Homo sapiens: one gene and its partner. The protein of the gene in region 1 purifies or fractionates together with the protein of each later gene. This does not show direct contact. Each region holds a gene or a part of one and is shown on either strand. Other genes may lie near its edges.

Evidence for each region. The genes of interacting proteins can lie anywhere in the genome.
Region 2: the proteins of TESK2 (region 1) and NAV1 purify together in Homo sapiens (affinity purification with mass spectrometry, with the first as the bait; one large-scale study listed by BioGRID). This does not show direct contact.

What each region holds. Positions count from the first base shown.
Region 1 is NC_000001.11:45,484,664-45,488,163, forward strand, and holds part of TESK2 (dual specificity testis-specific protein kinase 2), read right to left. Parts: intron 1-3,500. UniProt on the Homo sapiens protein: Dual specificity protein kinase activity catalyzing autophosphorylation and phosphorylation of exogenous substrates on both serine/threonine and tyrosine residues. Phosphorylates cofilin at 'Ser-3'. May play an important role in spermatogenesis.
Region 2 is NC_000001.11:201,542,127-201,545,626, reverse strand, and holds part of NAV1 (neuron navigator 1), read right to left. Parts: intron 1-3,500. UniProt on the Homo sapiens protein: May be involved in neuronal migration.

The sequences.
Region 1 (3,500 bases):
GGAAGTTGCAGAAAGCCGAGACTGCGCCACTGCACACCAGCCTGGGCGACAGAGTGAGACTCTTGTCTCAAAAATAAAAAATAAAGGGCCGGGCGCGGTGGCCCAAGTCTGTAATCCCAGCACTTTGGGAGGCCGAGGCGGGTAGATCACAAGGTCAGGAGATCGAGACCATCCTGGCTAACATAGTGAAACCCTGTCTCTACTAAAAATACAAAAAATTAGCCGGGCCTGGTGGCGGGCGCCTGTAGTCCCAGCTACTCGGGAGGCCGAGGCAGGAGAATGGCGTGAACCCGGGAGGCGGAGCTTGCAGTGAGCCGAGATCGCGCCACTGCACTCCAGCCTGGGCAACAGAGCGAGACTCCGTCTCAAAATAAATAAATTAATTAATTAAATCAAATTAAATTAAAAATAAAAAATAAAGTCTAAAAGAATATAAAGAGACTATTCAAAGTGTTTGGGAGAGGGCATGGAACCAGGTTAATAAAGAACAGAGATGGAAGTAAGATTTTTCACTGTTTTGTTTTTTGTTTTTTGTTTTTTTTTGAGATGGAGTCTCGCTCTGTCGCCCACGCTGGAGTGCAGTGGCGCGATCTCGGCTCACTGAAGCTCCACCTCCCGGGTTCACGCCCTTCTCCTGCCTCCGCCTCCTGAGTAGCTGGGACGACATACATGTGCCACCACGCCCTGCTAATTTTTTGTATTTTTAGTAGAGACGGGGTTTCACCGTGTTAGTCAGGATGGTCTAGATCTCCGGACCTCGTGATCCGCCCGCCTCGGCCTCCCAAAGTGCTGGGATTACAGGCATGAGCCACCGCGCCCAGCCGACTTTTCACTGTTATATAAATTTATTTTTTATTTTATTTTTTTTTTTTTGAGACGGAGTCTCACTCTGTCGCCTAAACTGCAGTACAGTGGCATGATCTCGGCTCACTGCAACCTCCACTTCCTGGGTAGAAGTGATTCTCCTGCCTCAGCCTCCCAAGTAGCTGAGATAGCAGGCGCAGGCCACCTCACCCAGCTAATGTTTCATATTTTTAGTAGAGAAGGGGGTTTCACCATCTTGGCCAGGCTGGTCTCGAACTCCTGACCTCAAGTGATCCACCTGCCTCAGCCTCCCAAAGTGCTGGGATTACAGGCATGAGCCACCGCACCCAGCCCTAAATTTATATATTAAAAAAGTTTACATTTAATAACCAGTTGAATGTATTATCTATTCAAAGATTAAATGTATCTTAAAAAAAAAAACTAAAGCTCACAAAAGATAAGTAATTTGCCTTTATATTAACCATCATATAGTTAATAACAACAGAGTTGAATACAACTAAGGTTTTCCTAATGTTCTTTTCCTTTTATCACACTGCCTTTTGGAAATTTTCAGGAATGGAAGACATAAAACTTATTACAACCAGGCTTTTCTCTGAAACAGCCACTGCCTGTGATTGTTCAGGGAAAATAACACTAGTGAGACTACACTGAAGTCATCTCCATATGATGACTTTGTAAATAGTATAATAGCCATTGTTGGGTCAAAACATTCACCATCACCCACACAATACAATGTAATAATTGGGCTTCATCTACTAGAAGGAGATGAAATTCCCATAAATGCCTTTACCATAGGTTTCAAATTCCAACACTACATTCTTTTTGCAAAACAAAATGAAATGTATGACACTAAGAATATATGTATAAATACTTTCATACAGGGAAGAAAGCATAAAAGCAAGTCAGTTTTCTCCTCAAAATAAGTCCGGGATGAGCATATTTAAATGTGTAATTTTCTTTTTACAATTAACTAAAACCTTTTGAGACCAGCCTGGCCAACATGGTGAAACCCCATCTCTACTAAAAATACAAAAATTAGCCCTGCATGGTGGCCCTCGCCTGTAATCCCAGCTACTCAGGAGGCTGAGGGGCAGGAGAATGGTGTGAACCTGGGAAGCGGAGCTTGCAGTGAGCCGAGATCTTGCCACTGCACTCCAGCCTGGGTGACAGAGCAAGACCCCATAAAAAAAAATTAATTAAAAAAAAAAACAAACGCACACACACACAATTAACTAAAACCATAAAAAAATGTTACTGAGGATCCTGAGGTGGAGAGTCCCTAGCCTCCCAGCATACACACACACACACACACACACACACACACACACACATATATACATTTTTTTTTTTTGAGACGGACTTTCGCTCTTGTTGCCCAGGCTGGAGTGCAGTGGCCCGATCTCGGCTAACCGCAACCTCCACCACCCGGGTTCAAGCGATTCTCCTGCCTCAGCCTCCCAAGTAGCTGGGATTACATGCATGCACCACCACGCCCAGCTAATTTTTGTATTTTTTTTTTCAGTAGAGACAGGGTTTCTCCATGTTGGTCAGGCTAGTCTCGAACTCCTGACCTCAAGTGATCCACCCGCCTTGGCCTCCCAAAGTGCTGGGATTACAGGTGTGAGCAACCGCACCCAGCCAGCACATATATTTTAAACAGAATCAAAGCCCATCATATGTCAAGCTTACAAAGGATTTTTTGTGTTTGAGGGTCTATCCCAAACATATATCTGTAAGAGAGAATAACACATCATACATCCAGGGCATCAAGTATCTGAGGATATCACCATTAATTCATATACAAACATCTGTACCATTTGGTACTACTTTTCAACAAGTGCCAAGGAACCACCAATCCAACTCTGGGTCCCTCCTTGGTGAGCAGGCCCACCTATAGGACTTACTATCTCCTCTGCTCAATCTCCTGCTATCATGCTGGACAACTGTGACATTCATATTGATGACATATTCAACACAGCCCCCTAATCTCCCACTACTTCAATAACCTACACCTCCATTCCCCTTCAACAGCATTGAGACAGTTAAGCCAGTTTTTGTCTTTACCTTGAAATAATGAACTCTGGGCTGTCCAATTATATATTTCTTACAAAATCTGGTCTTCAACCACATTTCTGATTGTCTTTTTATTCTCTAAGTACACCAGCCTCCCTCTAGATTTTGCTTCTTATAACTCCCAGCTTGGTCCCTTGGAATGAAACATATCTCCTACACTATCAATAGCAGTGTAAAGTTGCTTCCCATTTTATCTTTCTGTCCTGCAAGTTTCCATTTTGAATCAATCCAACCATCTTTTTTGTCCTACTATTCTTAGGCTGTTGAAGAAAGTGTAAAATCCATGCTCCTGGGCCCCATTACAAATATATTATTTCTAACTAGTAGGACCCTCAATGTGGTCAACAATCTTTTAGCTCCTGAGTTTTTTTTTGCTTTTTTTTTTTTCTTTCCCCCAGGCTGGAGTGCAGTGGTACAATCTTGACTCCCTGCAACCTCAGCCTCCCGGTTCAAGCAATCCTCCCACCTCAGCCTCTCCAGTAGCTGGGACAACAGGCATGCACCACCACACCCAGCTAATTTTTTAATTTTCTGTAGAGACGAGGTCTCACAATGTTGCCCATGCTGGTCGCAAACTCCTGGGCTCAAGCGATCCTCCCACT
Region 2 (3,500 bases), about 160 Mb from region 1:
AGAAACTAGCATTTAAAGGGTGATGCATATAATGAGGAAGGTGAGTAAGAAATAGGATGAGACTGGGCATAGTGGCTCACGCCTGTAATCCTCAACACTTTGGGAGGCAGAGGCAGGCAGATCACTTGAGGCCAAGAGTTTGAGACCAGCCTGGCCAACATGTATCTGGAATAGAAAAAGCTACATGCCTGGGTGACAGAGAGAGAGATTCTGTCTCAAATAAAAAATAAATAAATAAAAATAAATAAATTAATTAAAAAAAAAAAGAAAAGAAAAAAGATTAAATCTGGCATTTATTAAGCACACACATTGAGCATCCCAGAGACTGAGTCAGGTCTGACATGGTCTCACTTGATTCATGCAATCACTCTTTGACTGTATTTTTTGAAATTGCCAGATCATAGGAATCTATGCAGGTGTGGGGTTGTGGAATGACGAGGAGGAGAAGGAAGAGGTTAGGACTGAAAGCTGAGGCAAGTTGGAAAACATTGTCCCAGGAGTAAGGCATTTTCATTCCACTTTTCCTGGGGAAGAAACAGAGTCTCTAAGAGATTCCATGGCCTGCCCAAGGTCACACAGAGTGTAGCGATGATGCTCATGTGGAGGATATAATTTCAATTGCCAATATTTCCTAAATGCTCATCTCGCTAAGGACTTCAGGTGCAAAGTCAATGTTTGAACCTTGAGTTCAAGTCTTAGTTATGTCATGGTCCACAATCTTGCTATTACGTCATATATCAACCTTCCTTGAAAAAACATGGGGACACATCCAGTGAAAATCTGAAGGAAGTGGGGCTGCTGAGACCAGAGAAGAAAAGATGGGGACAGATGCATGGTAGTTGTTCCCAAATATTGAAAGGCTGACACTCTGTAGGCAATCACACTTATTCTGCATGACTTATTTTGAATATCCTCCACTTTATTCAGGGATGCATTTTGGTGAAGCCCACTAAGCTTTTGGGATCTTTCAGCGATGGGTGGAAGTCATATCCCTGACAGATTAATACAATGAGGAACTCTGAGAGACAGAGCTGTCCAAATATAGAATAAGATGATTTCAACATAGTGTTGCAGGAATGCCCCAGCAACAGAGGTGTCCAAGCTGGATGACCTCTGAGGGGGATGTTTTAGGGGGATTTGATGTATCTGGAATAGAAAAAGCTACATGACACTTAAGTTTCTTTCCAACTTTGAAAGTTTCATTTTACAGAAGTTGGTATTTACTCTATTTACAAATGGATTTTAAAATCAGGGAAGGGATGTAAAGTGGGTCAGTATTACCGACCAGATGGGGAGGGAATTGCGTCATTGAAAGCTGTGACCAGTCAAGGGTTCCAGCGAGTAAATCAGCTCAACCATTGAGTAGTTCTAACCCTCACAGTGCATCAAAATCACCTAGGGAGCTTTTAAAAATGACAGACACTGAAGCCACATTCCAAACCAAGTGAAGCTGAATCTCTGGGGATGGGCCCAGGAATTGGTCATTTTTAAAAGCTCCCCAGGTGGTGCTAATGTGCAACCAAGATGGAGAATCCCTGAGCTAGAGGAAATGAAGCCCGCGCTGAGGCTGGGCGTGGTGCCCTCTGAGTCTCAGGATGACCAGCAATCAGTTCATCTCTGCATCAGGGCCAGTGGTGGCCCCTCCGGCTGGAGGGAGTTGGTGGGAAACTGGAAGACAGGAAGATACAGCCCTTTAACCCTTTAATGCCTAACTTCTAGTTATTAAAAAATGTTCACAAATTCATAGAGATGGGAAGTAAAATGGCGGTTGCCGGGGCCTTGGGGAGGAGGGAAGGGGAATGGAGAGTTACTCTTTAATGAGTACAGAGTTTAAGTTTGGGAAGGTAAAAAAGTTCCAGAGATGGCTACAGGTGATGGTTATACAACAATGCAAATGCATTTAATGCCACTGAACTGTACATTTAGAAGTGGCTAAAATGGTAAATTGTAGGTTATACATATTTACCACAATATAATTGTTAGATGTTTAAAGTACACTAATTATAATGAAAAGTATAATTAAATACATCAACCCATCCTAATGTAAAATGTTAGCACTTAGTCAAATTTTGTTGTCTTTTTACAGGGGAAAAAAAAATGAAACTTTGCAGATAAAAAAAAAAAAATTCAGAGGGATTTATCCCAGGACTAAAAGAGTGATTCAACTTAAGAAAAACAATCAGTGTAAGGCACCACACTAACACAATGAAGGAAACAAAAAACAAGCCACAGGATTATCTCGAGTGATACAGAAAACAAGCATTTGACATAAAATTCAACACCCCTTTGTGATTAAAAAAAAATGATTAGAAAACTAGAAATAGAAGATGATTTCCTCAACACAAAGGACATTTATGAAAAGCCCACAGCTAACATCACGCTCACTGGTGAAAGGCTAAAATCAAGAAATCCCCCTAAGATCAAGAACAAGAGAAGGATGTCTGCTTTCACCACTGCCACTCAACATTATACTGAAAGTTCTAGCCAGAGCAATTAGGCAAGAAAAATAAATAAAAATCATTCAAATTGGAAAGAAAGACGTAAAACTATTTCTATTCACAGTTGACATGATCCTATGTATAGAAAATCCCAAAGAATCCAGAAACAAAAAAGCTACTAGAGCTAATAAATTCAGCAAAATTGCAAGGGACAAGATCAACACACAAAAATCAGCTGTGTTTCTACACACCAGTAATACACAAGCCAAAAAGGAAATTAAGAAACAATTCCATTTATGAAAGCTTTCAGAGCATCTGAGGATTGGATATCAGAACAGTCTTGCAGTCTTTTGAAGTGGAATCATCTTGTTAGTAACGGTCCTTGGCAGAGGCACATGCATCAGAGCCTTTAATTTTATATGCATATTAGTGCATCTCATATTAAAATTAAGTAGAGCAAATAGATTTGATGGGGTGGTAGTGTGAACTGCACAGGACATGTGTAAGAACCTGAACCACATCCACAGGCAGGTCAGAGTGGCCTGGGTCTCAGCCATCCTGCCTCGCTTCACGTCTCAAGAGTCACAGGATGCTGGGAAGCAAAATCGCAGGCCTCTCGGAGGAAATCAGGCCTGAGTCAGCCTTCCCAGGAGGTTAAGGGAACAGATGAGGCCCAGGAAACGGTTTACTGTGGAGGGTGTTTTTCGCTAGACTAGTTGGAGGGGTATTTTTAAGTTGAAGAAGGAACTAAAAGTGTTTTTAATTATTATTTTTTGTGTGTGACTAGGGGCCAGAAAGACGAAGTGTTTGCCAAGTATTGCCACATTTCTTAGCTCTCCATGTTCCAGAGACTCGAAAAGTTGATAGATGCTTCCATCACAGAGATAGCTGTCTTGACCCTAATATGTTTCTGTTCCTCTCTCTAGCTAAGAGGTAAGTAACATCTGCTGAGATGGAAACGCTAGGAAGATAAAAATTCCCAGTGATTTGCTGAAAGGGAATGAGCCCTAAACTGAAAGCCAGGAGCCCTGCATTCTAGGCGGGCTTCTGCAGTACCCCAGT